Homo sapiens: one gene and its partners. The protein of the gene in region 3 interacts with the protein of the main gene of each other region in a biochemical or structural test. Each region holds a gene or a part of one and is shown on either strand. Other genes may lie near its edges.

Region 1 (7,111 bases), on a different chromosome or scaffold from region 3:
TACTTCATACCTATACCACAGTTCTTCCAATGCCTGGTTGAAAATAAATAATGAAACAAAATAAAACATAACGCAATAGGATCCTTACTTGGACTGATGAAAAAAATGTGCTATGAACTGAAGAGTATGATTATAGCAAATCTACATACCTGTAGATAATTTTTTAAGTAAAAAATAGATTTTTTTAACTTTTATTTTAGTTTCTGGGGTACATGTACGGTTTTGTTACATAGGTAAACTTGTGTCATGGGGGGGCTGTACAGATTATTTTGTCACCCAGGTACTAAGCCTAGTACCCCAAAATTGATTTTTTCAAAGCAGGAAATATATTGCCTGATTGTAGATTTTAAATGTTCTCACCACACACACAAGAAAAGATAAGTCTGTGAGATGATGGACATGTTAATTAGCTTGATTTAATCACTGCACAATGTATACATGTACCAAAACATTATATATCATAGTATATATAATTTTTATTAGTAAATTATACCTTAATAATGCTGGGGAGGGAGAAAGAATCTTGTAGGATCACCTGCAGTGTTACAAAGGGAACTCAACGTGAGACAGGTAATTCAAACAGTCAGAACTATGAAAATATCAAATAGTAATTTACAAAAATGTAAAAGAAAAACACTTATTATGACCCCAATGACACCAAAAATATGTACCATATGTACAATTTGATTAGGAAGCTTCTGAATATATTTTCAGATGGTGCTAACCATTAGATCTCAATGTTCACCTGCTCACAGTAGCTGAAATACTTGCCGTAACACAAGTGGTGACCCTTTAATCTAATGTTCCACTTTTCTGGCCTTTTCAATTTACCACTTGACTCTTTATTTCTAGTTTTTAACTGCCCCTTCAGTCCTCTCCTCCCCAATCTCTCTGACTGTACAAGACATTGTGTGAAATAATGTCAATACTTTTGCAAAAGCCTGTATAACATGCCACTCCTAACCAGAATTGCTATGGAATCAAACAAACTGAAAAATAAAAATGTTCATGATTACTGTGGATATTTACATAACTGCAAATAAGCAATCTCTTTAATCTTTTCACCCTACACTGAGCAATTGCTCAGGTTGAGAGAATCACCTAACTGTAAGAACACTGAGTGTAGGAAAAAATCAAACTAATTATCAACAACACCATATATTATGCACATTCATACTTTTCATTCATATTTTCATTACTAAATTAATACTTTTCAACTGTTTTATAATATATGCGGGGAAAAGTGGCTGCTGACAATTAAGGAGAGAAGCATTCAGAAATTCCTGAAATTGTGCCTAAAAACAAGCAATACATTCACTAGTTCCTCATCAATCAGTGGTTTAGTCAGAATAGATGCCAATGAACTAGTGAAGGGTGTATATTTTTTTCCTTTTCACCAAAATAAGTTGAACAAAATTCCTGTGTGATTGCATATTTTAAAATCTAAGTTTCATGTTTGCCAACATTGCTAAGCTACTATATCAATTGTCTGGCTTAAGCCAAATAAAACCTTTCATAACTTTGGAAGAAACTTCTACACAGGAAACTGTAGATTTAGACAGCCGAAATTTGTCTGAATATGCATTGTTTTTGTACCAGTTCTTAACTATTTAAATTATATGATATTCCATAACAGCCATAGTGGCCATATAATTGAACACTCTGTATATTTAATGATCTGTTTTTCTAGATGAGACCAGAAAAAGTAAGAAACAGAACAACGTGAATTTCTCTGCTGCCAAATAACTTCAAGTGGTGCTATCACAACTGGTTTTTAATGGCACAAAAATATTTGGTTGACAGTATTAAAAGAATTCCTGTGGGAAATATCTCATATTCTTATAGATTAAAAAATGTTTTGAATAGTTGTAAGGAAAATCACCATTTTCTTTGTATCTAAATTCTATCAATAGAAAGAGGGAAATGAGGCTGAGCGCAGTGGCTCATACCTATAATCCTAGCACTTTGGAAGGCCGAAGCAGGTGGGTCATCACTTGAGCACAGGAGTTCAAGACCATCCTGGCAACATGGCAAAACTCTGTCTCTACTAAAAATACAGAAAATCATCCAGGCGTGGTGGCACATATCTGTAGTCTCAGCTACTCGGGAGGCTGAGGTGGGAGAATCACCTGAGCTTGGGAAGTTGAGGCTGCAGTGAGCTCAGACGGTGCCACTGCACTCCAGCCTGAGTGACTAAAGTGAGACCCTGAGAAAGAGAGAGAGAGAGAGAGAAAGAGAGGAAGGAAGGTAGGAAGGAAGGAGGGAAGGAAGGAAGGAAGGAAGGAAGGAAGGAAGGAAGGAAGGAAGGAAGGAAAGAAGGAAGGAAGGAAGGAGAAAAGAAAAGAGAAAAGGAAGAAAGGGGAGAAAGAAAAGAAAAGAGAGAAGAAAAGAAAAGGAAGGAAGGAAACAAGGAAGGAAGGAAGCACTTGTCTTGTTTTGTTCCAACATATTCCAACAATAAGGAAAGATTTAAGAAATTGAAGTCTCATTTTCAAAATCACTCTAAAGTAATGCTGGGGAAATTAAAAGATGAGTAGTATCTTTTATTATTAAAAAACACCCTATATTTTTACCTCTATTGCCACATTTGGGTTTAGATTTTTCACCTTAAACAAGGTGATGGCGCAAGGTCAGAGGTCAAAGATTACCCTGATACATAAATCAAAGCAAACAAATATAAAAACAAAGCAAGGAAGGAAACTTCATGTTACCATCAACACCTATAAGACTGCATTCTACCAAGTTCTAACAGTCTGAGTCCAGCCCTGCAATATTGATCATTATACTAGTTATTTGGTATAGTTTGAGAGCTTATTCAATGATTCCAGTCTAATACACACACACACACACACACACACACACACACACACACAAAGTTTCATATAATTATCCATTACACTCTTCTTTAAAAGATTTATAAATAATTAAAGATTGTGGTTTTCTAAAGGTTTTATAATGGGGCATGGACTTCCATGACAGATAAGTGGTAGGTAGTGGGAATATCTAAAAAAGACTTGTGATTGGTTTTGCCAAACTGATAACTCAATTGTTTCCCAGTAAATTTGCCTTCTCATCTCAAAATGACATTTCTGCATATGCACAACCAATTATGTTATATTAGCTATCATCAGATGGAACAATTTAGCAAACAACCTCTAGATGTTAGCATGACAGCAAATTGCAATCTCCCTACGTCATTTCCAAGCACCTTCCTTCTCATGTATCAAGCGATGATCTGCAAATAAGCTTTAAATTTTGGTCTTGAGAACCAGAATTTTGAATCATTGTGTTCCCAAATGTTGCACCTTTATCTATTTTATTTCCTTTTTAAAAAATGAAGTGAAATACCATTGACATTGCACTTGTAATTGAAAAGGAGTTAAATCATCTTTCTGTCAAAAATAATAAAAAGCAATGAAAATATGCTTTACTTTTATCAGCAAATGTGTCTTTCATTTAGTAATAATTAGATTAGTCCTTAAAGAATGCTGAGAGTTTGAGATTTGAGAAACTGTTTCAAAACATAACTACTTCTAAGATTTGCCCTGATACAGAGGGCAGGAAAAAGATGTCACCTGGGCCTTACAGCCATATTGCTTTTTTTAATATTATAATTTTAATTATATATTGATATAAGAATAAGATAATAAATATAAATTTCTTTTGTTAATAAGACAGTATGCTAGTCTATAGAGCTTTAAGCTTTAGTAAACAACAGCATTTATTATGCACGTATTTACAAAGCAGTATGTATGTTACATATATTGTCTTTAAATCTCAAAGTAATCTTAGATAAGTCACAAATATACATTCATTGACTTACAAATGTTCTGCATTCTCTAGTAAGGTCAGTAACAGTTATTCATGAATAAATTAGTGAAGACTTATATACAATCATCTCACAAAAAAAGGTAATAATCATTAGAAAATAAAGTTATAAATCTCCCATAAAAGCTATGATAGGAATCTGGTGAAAATAAACAGCACAGTCATGAAGTATGGTCTTCTGGGGCAAGTTTTTAAACCTTATTCCAGTAACCCCCACCACCACCACCACCATACACAGTGTACTTTTACTCTTTCAGATTGATCTCAATTCTGAATCTAAAGGCCCAAATGAATTCATGTATTTATCAAATGAGCCAATCATCCAACTCTTCCCAGCCCATGGACTACAAGGCTTAATGGTTTTAACTTCACAGTCTCACAGGATATTCTTGTGAAAACTGTCAAATAGTACATACCTGTTTTAAAAAGGTTTATAAGTCTGTGAATTGATAGAAAAATATAAAGCAGAGTTTCTCTTGGGAGGCCAAGGCGGGCGGATTACGAGGTCAGGAGATCGAGACCATCCTGGATAACACGGTGAAACCCCATCTCTACTAAAAATACAAAAAAATAGCAGTGCATGGTGGCAGGCGCCTGTAGTCCCAGCTACTTGGAAGGCTGAGGCAGGAGAATGCTGTGAACCCAGGAGGCAGAGTTTGCAGTGAGCCGAGATTGCACCACTGCACTCCAGCCTGGGCAACAGAGCGAGACTCCATCTCAAAAAAAAAAAAAAAGAAAAAGTAAAGAAAAAAAGAAAAATGTAAAGCAGAGTTTCTCTTTGGGATTGTGAGATATGTGATGAGGCCTCATTTTTTGCAGTCTATAACACAAAATATAAAACAATACTTCACATCTGGAGGCTATACAAGGATAAGGAAGCTCTTAAAAATATATTTAAAAAATAGTTAAACATAATCTACTACATATAAATTCCACATCTGTAATACATAATATACAGTTCCAAAATATAATCCTGTTACATTATTAAACTTGAAAAGAAATTTAAATTTTAAAAGTACAGGCAGGGCACAGTGGCTCATGCCTGCAATCCCAGCACTTTGGAAGGCTGAGGTGGGAGGATTGCTTGAGGCCAGGAAATCAATAACAGCCTGGGCAACACAGTGAGACATTGTCTGTATAAAAAAATTATAAAAATTAGTCAGATGTGGTGGCACACACTTGTAGTCCCAAACACTTGGGACGCTGTGGCAGGAGGATCACATTAGCCAAGACTTTGAGGCTGCAGTGAGCTATGATTATGTACTGTACTTGTAGTCTGGGCCTTATCTCAAAAAATAAAATAATAAAAATAAAATTAGAGTACTAAAATTATATTACTTAAGAATCACTTAATAGGCCAGGCCCAGTGGCTCACACCCAGTGGGATTCCTTAAATCCCAGCACTTTGGGAGGCCGAGGTAGGAGGACCTCTTGATCCCAGGAGTTCCAGACCAGCCTGGGCAATATGGCAAAATACCATCTCTACAAAAAATTTAAAAATTAGCCAGGCATGGTCACCCATACCTGTAGACCCAGCTACTCAAGGGGCTGAGGTGAGAGGATCACTTAAGCCTGGAGGCCAAGACTGCAGTGAGCTGTAATTGTGCTACTGCACTCCAGCCTGGGCAAGAGAGTGAGATTCTGTCAAAAAAAAAAAAAAAAAAACACACAGTAAAATGACAAATTCTATACTTCATCATTAAATCAGAAATCAGTAGACATATAATATAGCCAATTATAAAATTGGAATAAAAATATATACACCTAAGCCCCAAAGACCATCATTAGTTTAAAAGGAGTTTGTTGGTCCAGGTGAGTTGGATTGATCAAGCACCTAATTACTTTCGGCTTTCTCAATCTATGTGGAATGTGTGGAGTATCTAAAATTAGTAATAAAGAGAAAAATGACATCACAACTATTAAGAAAACAATGTATAATACAATTAAAGTGAAACAATTACAAGCAAAGTAATGCTACTTTCAAACCAAGGCACTAACCTTACTTCTTTAGTGAGCTATCTACTTAAAATCTCACTGTTAAATTTCTTTAGCCAAAAGATGATTCTGAAAAGTGAAACTATATGCCAGGAGTCTTATAAATGCTATTACTCCATTTAAGTACATTTAAGAGTAAAATATCAGTTGCCTTTCTAATAAGGTAATAACCAAAATGAACAATCATATTAATGGCATCAAGCATCCCTAAAGAGTAACACAGCTCATTTGAGGAAAAAAAAAAAAAAAAAAAAAGTATGTGTGTGTGTTTGTGTGTGTGGTAGATAAGTAGATGATGTACTATGAAACCAAACTAGCTCTTCCTCTGGAATTTTTTTCCTTGCTTTAAAACAATTCCTCCTCAGTCTACATATTCAAGGTTTCTTTGACAGTAGAAAGTAACAGTGTTTCAAAGTGAAGTCAATGATTGTTATTATTTTTTACCCTCCTGAAAACAATAACCATGTACACTAACAGAATACATATCTTTATATACAACCAGGCTTCAACGTCACACACTTGCAAACTAAATAAACAAACATAATGTAAATAAAACCCTGGATCAATACTTTCTAAAAAGAAAGAATAACATATTATATAGCCATACATTGTTACATACAAAAAAGCAAGACTAGATTTTTCACCTAAACTAGAAGATGAAAGAAATAATTCTTTACTTATATAAGTCAGTATATACTTAGGGTACGTTATCTTAAAATAAGTATTTTTTGTTGAATTACCATCACAATGTTTCAAGTACAATCGTGTCTGCTACATAATTAGAGAACAACTATACTCTAAATTCTAAATAATAACAATAATAATTTACAGGTGAGTTTCTCAGGGAAACTTATGCAGCCTTGTACACCTCAGTTGCTCATCCCAAAGGAAATGTCCTGTGATGTTACTGAAACTGTCAGCTAATATTTCCAATGCTCGTATGATCTATGTTAGTACTTAGGGAGCTCCTGAACAAAGTGAATGAAAAACTTCTTAACACATTTAAAACAACAGATGTGGAAGACTCAGAAAGATCAGGAGAACCTTCTGCTGTAAGTTCCACACGACTTCAGCCCACATAGTAAATTGTAAATGATTTCAAACCCTCTGCTCTCTCCTGAAACATCCAATCCCCAAACTCCTGTCATCCTTCCTCATAGCTGACGTCCTCATAAGGTACTTCCAAAAAAAAACTGAAATAAAAGACAAAAGAACTCCCTCCCACTTCCTTAACTCCACACTGACACTCTGCCATTCCTACTGTCACAACACACAGAGATCCTGTATC
Region 2 (7,049 bases), on a different chromosome or scaffold from region 3:
TTATTTATGTGTTCGTATGTATATTTCTGTTCTCCCACTACAATGGAACTTTCTTGTCTTATTCACTGAGGTATCCTATGGTCGAAAAGAGCTTGGCAGATAGTACATAAAATTTACATGTGTTTAATAATACATAGCGCAAGGTGCAGTGGCTCACGCCTGTAATCTCGGCATTTTGGGAGGTCGAGGTAGGGAGATCACTTGAGCCAGGACCAGCCTGGGCAATATAGTGAGACCTCGTCTCTGTAAAGAATTGAAAAAAACAAATACACGAATAAACAGCACCTTGCTGTCTCAAGGGCCAGCAGAATCCTTACTCATAGCCCAGAGTCCTTCTCTTCTCTAGCAAGGCTACATCCTTTCTGTAAACCTCTCTCACATTGAACTCCTCTCTTCTTCCCATGCCTAAAAGGAACCCTTGTCCCCAGAACAGACATTTACACTCACCCACAGAGCTTCCTGAAATAGGTGTAAAGACCCTGCTGCAAACATAAGACTATGATGGGCAGAACTGAGCCTGGGTCCACACACTGCACCCAACACAAGGCATAGGGAACCACCTGTCCCTCTTCCCACTTTAAGCAGGCCTGGCTCTCCCCACCATGCTGTAGCAGGAATGGGCAGGGCAGAGATTGGGGCTGGGATGCAAGTGAAGGAGGTGTGTACTCCAAGGGTCGGGGGATTACCTCCAGGCTGAGTGCCATCTGCCGAATGTAGAGCATATTCAGGTCCTCCAGGATGTGCAATCTGTCCTGCATCTCTGTGCCCCCCGGTGCCCTTTCCCTTGTCAACCCCTCCAGAGGGGGGACAGATAGGTACCACACTGTCCCACAGTTCCTCCTCCCACTGTTCCCTCAGTCTTTAAAGAGGTGGCCAGCTCTTGGGCAGAGGGCAGAAGCTGCCCTTATCCCTCTGCACTCCTGTTAAACCCCTCTGGCTGCTGTGACAAATTTTCCTCGCCCACTGCTGCTCCGGGGCCCTGCCGGGAGCCAGGCAGGGAAGAAAAAGAAAGCGAAGTGAGGATAAGTGGGGTCCCAGGAGGAAAGGCCAGCTGCAGAGGGGGCTCTAGGCACAGAGTGTCCAGTCTCGCTTTGGTGGCAGCTGTTCTCCCAGCTGTGGAAGAAAAAGGCCCTTTCATTCCGACTCTGGCCGCTCCCCAGCCCCCGCCCACATCCCTGGCCTGGTGGACAGGGAATCTGTGTGCGGAGAGGGCAGTGAGGGGCAGGCACAACTGGAAGGGGGCAGGGAAACGACGCCTCATGCAGGTTCTAGAGTCATGGGGTTTGCAGGAGGTTGGAGCTTCCCGAGAGGGGTTCCAGCTTAGTTTGAGAAAGTTGGGAAAAAGAGCCACACAGGTGAGGACCTCAGGGGAGAGTGAGCCCAGGGAATGGGACAAAGGGGTGAGTTGGCAAAGCAGCCCAGCCCTAGGGCCACCCCTTCCAACTCAGGGCCCCCATCCAGCCCGCTCCACCCTGGGCTCACAATTACCTCGCTTTTCCAGAGAAGGGAGGAGAGGGAGAGAGGAAGGCAGGGGTGTGCCTGTCTGCTGCTGTCCCCGCTCCCTTCTGCAGGCCCCTTCCCTTCCAGACAGGAAACCAGCCCCGATTCCGAGCCAGCTGCAGCCTAGCGCCCCCGCCTCCACGCCAGGCCCACGGAGTCACACTTCACTCGGCGGCCGCCAGGCCCTGCGGCTCCGCCCCAGCTCCTCCGAGCTGTCCCCGAAGGCCGGGCTAATCCCAGGGGCGGCCCCAGCTCACAGGCCCCTCCCCCTGGTCCCGGGCCTCGCCCCTTACTCCCCCACGCTGGCCCCACGCGGGTTCCTCGGGCCCAGTCGCTTGGGGGCAAGGGGACGCGACAAAGGCCCCCTCTCCCCAGGTCCACTAGCTTCTGAGTCAGAGAAGGCCCGGGACGCCGGGACAAGGGTGTGAAAGAGCCTCTTTGTTCTGGGCAGGCTGGAGGGAAAGGGCAGAAGCCAGGCCTGGAATCCCAGCCGGGAGGTAGAGGGGGCGGAAGGAAGGCCCACCTCACTTAACCCTTTCCAGACCCGGAAGGGAAGGCTTGGAACTGGGCTCTCCTTGGGCGAGTGTGAGTCTGACCTTGGGGACAGAAGAGTCTTCGGGGTAGCTATTCGCCCTCTCAGTCCCCGCTCAACCACACACCTTCAGCCCCGCCCTAGCCCTTAGGGCGTTACAGGTGGGGATCCAACAGGTTAACGCGTGGACGGCGGACGGGGGAAACGCTCAGCCTAGGGGCTGGACTCCTCTTAGGCCCCAGAAAAGGAGGCGGAAATTTTGCGTGTGGGAAGTAACCCCAAGGAGTTAAAAGCCCTGCAGGGGCATAGAGGAGCCTTTGAATTGGGCTTCGGGGAAGCGAGCGGCCCCGGCCTAAAGTCGGGGTTGATGACAGAGGCTGGCCCAGATGGCTGCGACAGGTTGTGGGATGGGGCTGGCGACTGGGGAACAAGCGGGAGCCCAGGCCAAGAGTCCGAGCGCTTGGGGCCCGCCTAGCTGCCCACCGCCCTTGGCCCGGGGATGCCCAAGACATTTTGGGGTTCAGGCACATTTTAGGAGTCGAGCTGGGGCCCTACAAATTGAGACCAACCCGGGCTTTTTCCAGGCTCAGGCAGATAATCCTAACCAGGCCGCGGAATGGGCAGCATGGATCCGATGAAAATGCAGACCGTCCACACCTTACTTTTTAAGTCAACAACTCCGTCGGGTTTGTACCCAGACCGTGCGTCTCCGCCCCTCGGCGTGCACGCGGGCGAGGGAAGGAGGCCGAGGTGGCTGGGGCTGCCCCCGGGAGCCGCGGAAGGGGAAGGCAGGGACGCGAGTCTCTCACCTCGGGCAGGTCGCTGAAGAGGCTGAGTCGGAAGCGGCCGCGTTTGAACTCCATCTCCAGGGCGGAGCCCCTGGCCACGGTGACCCGGCTCCGGTGGTTTCGGGAGAACATGCTGGCGGCCCTGCGACTTTGCCTGCTCAGTGCGCTCCCCGCGCCGCCCGGCTTAGCCTCCTCTCCTCGGCTTCTGTCTCTCGACGCTCGTCCGCCAGTCCGGCCGGGAATCTCCCGCTGCGGGGCTCCAAACCCCGCCCCCGGAGACGACACCTGGGCCGGGCAGGGCGCGGCAACCTCCTCTTCCACCCCCGCCAAAGGCCCAGCCCGTCCGGCCAGTCCCTGGGCGCCAAGCCGACCTGGCCCGACGGCCCCGGAGCCCCCAGGGGCGCACTGCACCTCGCGAGCACTGTGGGAGCGCGTTCTCCCTGCCCGCGCGGGTCGCGAGCGCCTACCTGGACTTGGGACGGACCGAGAAGCCCTGCCCCGCCAGCCGCCCCAACCTGGCAAGCCTGGCTTCCCGGGCGCTGAAAACCCCGTGGCTCAGGGATCGCCGCGTAGCACGCTCTGGCTCTACTCGGGCCCTGGGACCTTGCCCAGTTTCAATCCCGGCAGCCTCCGAAGAGACCATTTCAACATCCCACAGTCCCAAATGTTCCTTCTTCGTCCCCCTCCCCACCTAGGCTCCTCTGCGAGGCTATCCGCCTAAGCCTAGTGGCCACAACTGATGGGGCGGTGCTTAAACACGTCGTGAAACCCCAGCTCTGTCACTAACTAACCGTGCAATCATTAACTTGGTCCAGTCACTGGCCTTTCTGAGCTTCAGTTTTCTCATTTGTTCAGTGGGAATACTGTAATTATCTCCACTCCTCAAGTTGCTATGAGGATTACCTATAAGAATGAGGGTAAAATGCCCAGCATAGTGCCTGGCACAAGGCAAGTGCCCCATATTTGCAGTCATAAAGAGCAGCTGCGCGCGGTGGCTCACGCCTGTAATCGCAGCACTTTGGGAGGCCTAGGAGGGTGGATCACCTGAGGTTGGGAGTTCGAGACCAGCCTGACCAACATGGAGAAACCCCATCTCTACTAAAAATACAAAATTTAGCCGGCCATGGTGGCACATGCCGGTAATCCCAACTACTTGAGAGGCTGAGGCAGGAGAATCGCTTAAACCCGGGAAGCAGAGGTTGTGGTGAGCTGAGACCCCACCATTGCACTCCACCCTTGGAAACAAGAGCGAAACTACGTCTAAAAAAAAGATGGCTGGGTGCAGTGGCTCAAGCCTGTAATCCTAGCACTTTGGGAGGCCAAGGGGGACTGATCGCTCTTGAGCTCAGGAGTTGGAGACCAGCCTGGGCAACATGAAACCCTGTCTCAACAAAACACACACACACACGCACACACACACACAAATTGGCCTGGCATGGTGGTGCACACCTGTAGTCCCAGCTACTCGGGAGGCTAAGGTGGGAGGATTGCTTGAGCCCGAAAGTTCAAGTCCAGCCTGGGCAACATAGTGGGACCCCATCTCTTAAAAAGCATTACAAATATGTATAATTTTTTATTTTTATTTATTTATTTATTTATTTATTTTAATTTTTTTTTTTTAAGACAGAGTCTCACTCTGTCACCCAGGCTGGAGTGCAATGGCATGATCTCGACTCACTGCAACCTCTGCCTCCTGGGTTCAATCGATTCTCCTGCCTCAGCCTCCGGAGTAGCTGGGATTACAGGCGTCTGCCACCATATCTGGCTAATTTTTGTATTTTTAGTAGAGATGGGGTTACACCATGTTGGTAAGGCTGGTCTCAAACTCTTGACCTCAGGCGATACACCCGCCTTGGTCTCCCAAAGTGCTGGGATTTCAGGCGTGGCCCACGCCTGGCCAATATTATCTATCTATAGATAGATATAGATATAGATAGATATAGATATAGATATAGATATAGATATAGATATAGATATAGATATAGATATAGATATAGATAGATATAGATATAATCAGCTGCTTTGCTGGATGGCTGGACTTGCCCGGCTGGACTTACCACTCCCTGCTTCCATAAAAACAGGGTTCCCGCTAGGCGCGGTGGCTCACGCCTGTAATCCCAGCACTTTGGGAGACCAAGGGGGGCAGATCACGAGGTCAGGAGATCGAAACCATCCTGGCTAACACGGTGAAAACCCGTCTCTACTAAATATACAAAAAAATTAGCCGGGCATGGTGGCGGGCGCCTGTAGTCCCAGCTACTCAGGAGGCTGAGGCAGGAGAATGCCCTGAACCTGGGAGGCGGAGCTTGCACTGAGCCGAGATCGTGCCACTGCACTCCAGCCTGGGCGACAGAGCGAGACTCTGTCTCAAACAAACAAACAAACAAACAAAAAACAGGGTTCCCTTCTTGCCCCCTCTGGGGAAAGCCCAGTGGAAGAGAAGGAAATGGCAAAGGATTAACTTGCTGATCACACATAAACAGATCTCCTGAAGGCTTCAGAACACAGAACTTGAGAAAGGGTGAGACTCCTACATGGCAGGCTGGCTGGACCCAGAGACATACCAGTCTTGAGCTCTTAGAGAGTCCAGATTAGAAATGTTTTGCTATGGCAAATCATTTCAACATTCTTTTGGAAAAGCTGACTGAAAAGTACTAAAGCAAAAGGGGAAATGCATCGGCTCCTGGAACTGAGCCAATACAAACAAATGAGCCAGGGGTCAAGCTTTAGATGTGGCTTAACCCACTCATTGAGTGTCAGGAATATCCAGTCTCTTCCCATCACTTGGCTCTACTTTCCTCCACGTTGGCTTCACTCTCCACAGTGTAACGAAATTGCTGCCCAAAATTCTGGGTCTATATCTTTTCAGGCTTAAATTCAGCTGAAAAGAGAGCATCTGTTTCCTGAGGCTCCTACACGTCTGGGATTCGCTGTGAGACATTTGTGATCATTCATCCATCCCAAACCAATCATTGGAGTCAGACGGTGGCCAGATCTGAACCAATTGCTGTGGCTAAGGAGGTTCTAGGTGCCAGCTGGCCAGGCTTGGGGTCACTTGCCCACTCCTGGAGACTAACCAGAACCCAGTGAACTGGGAGGGAGAAGGTGGGGGAGGGTTGTTCCCCAAAGAATGTTCCAACCACTACCACCAGAAGGTGAGAGAATGGAAAATGAACAGGAAAAACAACCAACATCCTCCACACACAAAATTTTATATGGAGAAGGGAGTTCTTCTGGTCAGTAGGAAAGGCAGATCAAAAGATTTATAAAGTCCATGGCATCTGAGATTAACCACAAAAGACGTGTGAGGGGAAAGAAAGGGAAAGATATTGTTCCTTAATTTATTCAAATATTCATCATCACTCCTCTGAACTGTAAGCCTTCTAGGGAGGGGCAGTCTGTCTTATCCCCAGTGCCTGGGACATAGCAAGTGATCAATAAACATCAGTTGAAGTAAATAAAAGAGAAGCAAACAGATTTGAGAGTCCTTGACTGAGATGTGCCATCCTGTTGGACTAAGATAGTTCATTTCAAATGTTTGTTTTTAAGCAACAGAACCTTTTTTTTTTAATGAAATCTTACCTGAAATGTGTGAAATCAAATCAGAGCTGCTATGATGGGAGCAGGTGCTAGAGCCTCATGCCTTGTCTACCCACAGGTGCTCAGCTGCTCCCTGCTCCCCCAGTGAACACAAGCTCTGTGGACGGGTTTGAAAACCCCTGGCCTGAGACCCAGGAAGGAGGCAGAGGAATGGAGGATCTTCAAAAAGGAGGTTGAGCTCAAATCCTGCCTGAGAGTTTGTACTCAATGTGGCTGAAGATTTTTGGGAAGGAGGGACATGATCAGGATTATATTATATTATATTATATATATATATTTATATAATATATATCACTCTGTTACCCAGCTAGAGCAAAGTGGTGCCATGATAATACACTGCAGCCTTGAACTCCTGGGCTCAAGCAATCCTCCTGTCTCAGCCTCCTGAGTAGCTAGGACTAAAGGCGTGCACCACCATGCGAGGCTAATTTTTAAATTTTTTTGTAGAGACAGCATCGTACAGGCTAGTCTTGAACTCCTGGCCTTAAGTGATCCTCCTGCCTCAGCCTCCCAAAGTTCTGGGATTACAGGCGTGACCACTGTTCCTCCTCCCAGAATTAACTTTAGAGATCGTAATTTGGCAGCCTTTTCCATTAGTCAGTTGGAGGAGTTGTGACTGGAGTCAGGGA
Region 3 (7,111 bases):
GCTACCACCCTAATCCAAGCCACCATCTTCTCTAGCCTGAACGACTGCAAATCTCTTAACTAGTCTCTCCGTTTCCACTACTGCTCCCTATGCCAAGAGTAAAGTTTTTAAAGCCTAAATCAACCTTGTCATGCCTTGCTCAAATCCTTCAGCTGTTTCCCACCATACCTAAGAGCCTATTTGATCTGGTCTCTGGCTACACATACAAACCTTATCTCCTCACGCTCTTTCTCACCCATTCCAGCCACACCAGGCTCCCTGTTCATTCTCCCATCTCAGGTCCTTTGCACTTGATGTTCCTTCCATACTTCCTCTGAATCTTCATGTGACTTGCTCCCTTGACTTTCTTCAGGTCTGTTCAAATCTCACCTCCTCAGTAAGGCCTTGTCTGACCTCCCCAATCTCTGCTAATACTCTTCATATCCTTCCTAGAATCATCACCACCAGACATGACTGCAATTGTTTGTTCACTCGTTTATTTTCTACTTCCCTCAATAGGATATAGATTAACGGCAGCAACTACAGATGTCACTGAATTCCCATTACCTAGAACCGTGCCTGACAAACAAAAGATACTTGAAAAAATTAACAAACAACCCTACAAGGTATGTCATATAACCATTTGCCAAGAGAAAAGAGAAGATTAGATTTCAGAGACAAATAACTTACCTAAAGCTGCATAGTAAATAAATAGCAAATGCACCTGAAAGAGCCAGCACTCTACCCACTGACTCACTACAACTTGCGACATAAAGCATATATGCTAAGAAACAAAAACGCAAAAGCAAGCATTTCTACATGAAAACACCAGATCACAAGTGTTACAGATCTTTTAGAATCTGTCTAGCAGGTTTTCTGCTTTTCACTGGAAGACTCCCCCACGGGGGGACAGAAAATAATAGATTATAGTGATCCTTCTCTTTCTGTTCATCACCATAGCAATTCATTTCTTTGATTAATCTTAGGTATGTACCATGTGCCTCTTCAACTAAAAGATACCTACATTGTTTTGTATTTCCCACAAAGCAATGGCTGAGCTACTGTCAGAAGATAGTCAACAAATACTTCTTTGTTATTTATACCCCCAAAGATTTTGAGAATCCTGTAATGAAATTTTAAGAACCACCAACAAAGCATACTCACCCAAAGGACTTCAGCTGCTAACCATGACGGAGTAACTGGATCCAGATTTATCCTGGCATCCTCCCTAACTACTAGAAAAGTGGACAAAATGCATGAGGCAGCATCCTTTAGAGCCTGAACAACAGGTAGCACAGAACTGCAGTCCCAAAGAGAAGGGAACAAATGAGATAAGCCCTAAAATCGCCCCAGCTTTCTGGCTGGAGGTACCTTCTAGACCATGGTGCAATGAGGAGGATCAAGCACAACATGACAGCCTTGTCAAGTTTAGAAAACAAACATAGCTTGGGAAGGCTAAGGAGTTTGAAAATTGCAGAGTACGAGAGAAGAGGAGGGAGCTGTATGAAAAAGGAGCTCCAGAAATCAGCATAGAGGCCCCATGAGTCTCACACCCAGTAGTAAGCCAAGCATGCATATTGTAAAAATACATGAGGGCACGCAAAGAATCACCCAGGAACTGTAAGCTAAATGATCTCCAAAGTTCACACAGGGCTGGGAGACATTTGTGTTCTCAACTGCCAGAATAGAGTCCTCAAGGAGAGCCCAATTCTTCAATGAAAACTACAGGAGCTTCATGCCTTAGTAATGGGGTGTAACAAGCAACTTACACACATAAGTTTGGCAACTTAACTTGCCAAAACAAAGTATGATACTCTTTAAAGCAATGGTTCTTGTGTTTGAAATAACTTTACCCCCAAGGAGACATCTGACATTTAACAGATAAGGACTCAACAACTATCATGAATATTATACATATGATCAAGAACCTATTTTTAAAATGAACATAACGGGAAACAAATGGAAGAAATAAAAAAAGATTCAGTAGCAAATGGAACCCAAAGACATGTAAAAAATAATACATCACGACTAAATGAGTATTATCACAAGAATGCAAAGCTATTTCAACGTATTACACCAGACTAAAGAAGAAAAAACATATGATTATGTCAATAAATACAGAAAAACCTTTGACAACATTCAATATCTATTCATGATAAAAACTCTCAGCAAACTAAACATAGAAGACAATTTCCTCAACTTGATAAAAGACATCTACAAAAACAAACACCTATGGCTACCATCATATTAATGGTCAAACACTCAGTGTTTTCCCCTCTAACATCAGGAAAAAGGAAAGGATGTCCACTTGTAAAACTCCTATTACACATTACACTGAGGGTCCTAGATAGTTCAGCAAAGTAACAAAAAGAAATCACGCCCAGCGCTGTAGCTCACGCCTGTAATCCTAGCACTTTGGGAGGCTGAGGCTGGCGGATCACTTGTGGTCAGGAGTTTGAGACCAGCCTGGCCAACATGGTGAAACCCAGTCTCCACTTAAAAAAAAAAAAATACAAAAATTAGCCGGGCATGACAACATGCACCTGTAATCCCAGCTACTTAGGAGGCTGAGGCACGAGAATCACTTGAACCTGGGGGGCCACAGGTTGCAGTGAGCTGAGATCGCACCACTGCACTCCAGCCTGGGTGACAGAGCGAGTCTCTATCTCAAAAAAAAAAAAAGGAAATGAAAGTATACAAAGTGAAAACGAAGAAATCAAACTGCCCTTATTTGCCAATGACAATAATGTCTATGCAGAAAATTCCAAAAATCTACAAAAAAAGCTTCTATTACTAAAAATGAGTTTAGCAAGGGTGTAGGATCCAAGGTCAGCAAATAATATAAAATGATCTTTCTATATACCAGCAATGAGCAACTGGAAATTGAGAAGTATCATTCACAACAACACCAGAATACATGAAATACATGTATAAGATTACAAAACACATGCAAGATCCAATTGCTAAAAACTACAAAACACTAATCAAAAATCTAAGGTCTAAATAGATATACCATGTTCATGGCTCATTATTAAAATGTCAATTGCCCCCTAACTGATTTCCAGCTTCAACACAATGCCAATCAAAAACCACAGCAGGCTGGGCATGGTGGGTCATGCCTGTAATCCCTACACTTTGGGAGGCCACAGTGGGAGGATCACTTCATCCCGGGAGTTTGAGGCCAGCCTGGGCAACATAGAGAGACTCTGTCTCTACAAAAATAAAAAAATTAGCCAGGTAGTGCATGACTGTGATCCCAACTACTTGGGAGGCTGACGTGGGAGAATCGCTTGGGCCCAGGAGATCAAGGCTGCAGTGAGTGGTTATCCTACCACTGCATTCCACACTGGACAACTGAGTGAGACCCTATCTTTTTTTGTTTTTTTAAGACGGACTCTCGTTCTATCACCCAGGCTGGAGTAAAGTGGCGCAATGTCGGCTCACTGTAACCTCCATCTCCCGGGCTAAAGCAATTCTCCTGTCTCAGCCTCCCAAGTAGCTGGGATTACAGGCGCCCACCACCACGCCCAGCTATTTTTTGTATTTTTTAGTAGAGACGGGGTTTTGCCATGTCAGCCAGGCTGGTCTCGAACTCCTGATCTCAGGTGATCCACCCGCCTCAGCCTCCAAAGTGCTAGGATTACAGGCGTGAGCCACCACACCCGGCTGAGACCTCATCTTAAAAAAGAAAAAAAAGAAAAAGAAAAACCCAGCAGGACTTGTGGATAACAGCAAGATGAATCTAAAATATGCACAAAAGGCAATGCAACTAAAATACCCAAAAAACAATTCTGAAAAATAATAAGATAACTCACACTACCTGATTTTAAAACTTACTCTAAGGTGACAGTAATCAACAGTGAGGTGATAGAGAAATGAAAGACACAGATCAATGGAATAGGAGAGAGAATCCAGAAACAAAACCACACATTTATGATCAACTTGCAAAAAAAAAAAGGCACAAAGGTAATCAACAGAGAAAGGACAGTCTTTTCAAAAACTGTTGCTGGAAAAATTGTAAATCCATCCACAAAAAAATAAACTCAATGCATACCTTGCACCATTTAGGAAAATTAAATCAAAGCAGATAATAAATGTAAATATAAAATTTTAAATGATAAAACTTCTAGGCGAGCCGGGCACAATAGCTCACGCCTGTAATCCCAGCACTTTGGGAGGCTGCGGTGGGTGGCTCACTTGAGGTCAGGAGTTCAGACCACCCTGGTCAACATGGTGAAACCCCATCACTAGTAAAAATACAAAAATTAGGCATGGTGGTGGGTGCCTGTAATCCCAGCTACTCAGGAGGCTGAGGCAGGAGAATCACTTGAACCCGGGAGGCGGAGATTCCAGTGAACAAGATCTCACTCACGCCAGCCTGGATGACAGAGTGAGACTCCATCTCTAAAAAAAAAAATAATAACTTGTAGGAGGAAATATAGGGGAAAGTCTTTGAGCTCTTAAGTTAGGCAAAGATTTCTAAACTATTATACCAAAAGCATGATCCACTCAGGGAAAAAACAAAAAAACAAAAAAACACTGGATATCATAAAAATTAAGAACTTCTGCTCTTCAAAAGACATTATTAAGACAAGAAGGCCAGACACAGTGGCTCGCGCCTGTAATCCCAGCACTTTGGGAGGCCGAGGCAGGCAGATCACTTGAGGTTAGGAGTTCAAGATCAGCCTGGCCAACATGGAAAAGCCCCATCTCTACTAAAATACAAAAATTAGCTGGGTGTGGTGGTGTGTGCCTGTAATCCCAGCTACTCGGGAGGTTAAGGCAGGAGAATCACTTGAACCCAGGAGGCAGACGTTGCAGTGAGCCAAGATCTCACCACTGTACTCCAGCCTAGGTGACAGAGCCAAACTCCATCTCGAAACAAACAAACAAAAAAAGACATTATTAAGACAAGTAAAAACAGACTAGGAGAAAATATCTGCAAATCATGTATTTGATTCCAAAGTATATACAAAAACTCATTTTTTAAGCAAAAGATTTTGAATTGACATCAAAGAATGACAAATAATCAGATGAAAAGATACTTAATATCATTAGTCATTGGGCAAATGAATAAAAAGGCTACATTCCGTGTGATTCCATTTTTACAACATTCTTGAAAAGGCAAAAAACCATGGAGACAGAAAACAGATCAGCAATTTCCAGAGTCTGGGGGTAGAGAACCGGTTGAGTACAAAAGGGCTCAGAAGAATTCTGGAGGATGAAGGGACTGTCCTGTTTGCAGCAGTGGATATATGAATGTATACACCTGTCAAAACTCAGAGAATGTTACACTAAAATGGCGGAATTTTAGTGAATGTAAACTATACATATGAATAATTAAAGAATGAAAAAATAGAGACTAAAGAGACATAATGATGTGCTGAGTGAACTTTAATTTTACTCTGTCCAAAATTTTTCTTAATCAACTATAAAAGATATTTGGGAGACAAATAGAGAAAGTTGAATAGGTATTGAATAATATTATAGAATTAACGTTAATCTTTCTTGTTGTGAATAACTGCAGTTGGTTATGTAGAAAAAGGGTCAGCAAACTTCTGTAAAAGCCCAGATAGTAAATATTTTCTGCTTTGCAGATCACATGGTCTCTGTTGTAACTACTCAACTCTGCTACTATAGCACCAAAGTAGCCAGAGAAGAGCTTACAGAGTGACATAAATGGTCAAAAACCTCACACGTTTTCCTTCTCTCCCATACTAGCACCCATATCATACAAACACACTGATATCCACATTCCCCAGGCACTGAACACAGCATTGCCCCACACAAATGTTCATACAATCACGGTATTTCAGTACCAGGTCCATCCTTACAGCAAGGTCTGACAAAAACACATTATCCATTCATCTTCTATTCATAACGTCACAATCAACTTGTAGGTGGACGAGAAAACTATAAATATGAGGACAAACGCAGGAAACAAACTTTCTTCCACTGACCAGTGAGGACAGATGCATGAAACAAACCTTTTTTTTTTTTTTTTTCAGACGGAGTCTCGCTCTGTCGCCCAGACTGGAGCACAGTGGCATGATCTCGGCTCATTGCAACCTCCACCTCCCGGGTTCAAGCGATTCTCCTGCCTCAGCCTCCCAAGTAGCTGGGATTACAGGCACCTGCCACCCTGCCGGGCTAGTTTTTGTATTTTTAGTAGAGATGTGGTTTCACCATGTTGGCCAGGCTGGTCTTGAACTCCTGACCTCAAGTGATCCGCCCGCCTCAGCCTCCCAAAGTGCTGGGATTACAGGCGTGAGCCACTGCGCCAGGCTATGAAACAAACTTTCTTCCACCCACAGCTTTCTCGTCTCTCCCCATTTACAGCAGTAAGACAGCCTAACCTGGGAAAGAGAGAGGGAAGCTACTTCCAAATGGATGCCTGTCCCCATCAGTAATAACCAAGTCTATTCAAGTGCCAGATGTTAACTTTAAAAGAAGGGAACATCAAAAGTCCAACTTTCTTCGCCTAGCTTTGTCAGGAATGTTTTTACCCTCAATCTGTAAGTGTGACCAACTGTAATTTTTAAAGGTTTATCCTCAATCTGTAAGTTTGATCAAATATAATTTTTAAAGGTTTACTATAATCTCTTCATCAGAAAACTAATGGAAAGATGGAATAAAATCTAAAGAAATGTCCTTAACAGGTAAATATTTCTAGAATGTATCTACTCCATCTAGGTAGTGTAAGTATTCTAAACTATGCTAGTATAACTGATTTAAATCACTGCCTTCTTCTGTAAATGGTGTCACCTTTAAAGTGTTATCTTGAAGAGGAAGTGAGTGATTTGCTCATGTCTCTGTACTGAACTAACACTGTTAACACCCAGTCCAGCTCTACCTTAAACAAGTTTGAGAAATACAGACACAATCCACACTTATTTGCCAAGACTAAGGTAAAATAAAGTTGGAACTCATATCCTCTTATGACTGATGTACTGAAAACAATCCATCTCTCACTGTTGCCCAAATAGCATAGTCACAAAGAGCTCTACCCTACCAAGCCACTCTGCAAGTCCCACTCTCAAAGGAAGACTCACAGGTGACTGAGAAGATAAACTCGCTATTGTTTCCATTATCCTTCAGTTCATCTGGCACCTTTGAAGAAATAGACTTCGAT

Evidence for each region.
Region 1: the proteins of AKAP13 (region 3) and PRKD1 form a complex in vitro, tested with the Homo sapiens proteins (one study listed by BioGRID).
Region 2: the proteins of AKAP13 (region 3) and RTKN form a complex in vitro, tested with the Homo sapiens proteins (one study listed by BioGRID).

Annotation. Positions count from the first base shown.
Region 1 is NC_000014.9:29,917,754-29,924,864, forward strand, and holds part of PRKD1 (serine/threonine-protein kinase D1), read right to left. Parts: intron 1-7,111.
Region 2 is NC_000002.12:74,438,865-74,445,913, forward strand, and holds the start of RTKN (rhotekin), read right to left. Parts: upstream 3,074-7,049; 5' UTR 2,953-3,073; coding exon 2,842-2,952; intron 1,720-2,841; exon of another isoform or gene 759-1,719; coding exon of another isoform or gene 687-758; intron 1-686. UniProt on the Homo sapiens protein: Mediates Rho signaling to activate NF-kappa-B and may confer increased resistance to apoptosis to cells in gastric tumorigenesis. May play a novel role in the organization of septin structures.
Region 3 is NC_000015.10:85,383,590-85,390,700, reverse strand, and holds part of AKAP13 (A-kinase anchor protein 13), read right to left. Parts: intron 7,026-7,111; exon of another isoform or gene 6,966-7,025; intron 6,639-6,965; exon of another isoform or gene 6,591-6,638; intron 6,495-6,590; exon of another isoform or gene 6,304-6,494; intron 1-6,303. UniProt on the Homo sapiens protein: Scaffold protein that plays an important role in assembling signaling complexes downstream of several types of G protein-coupled receptors.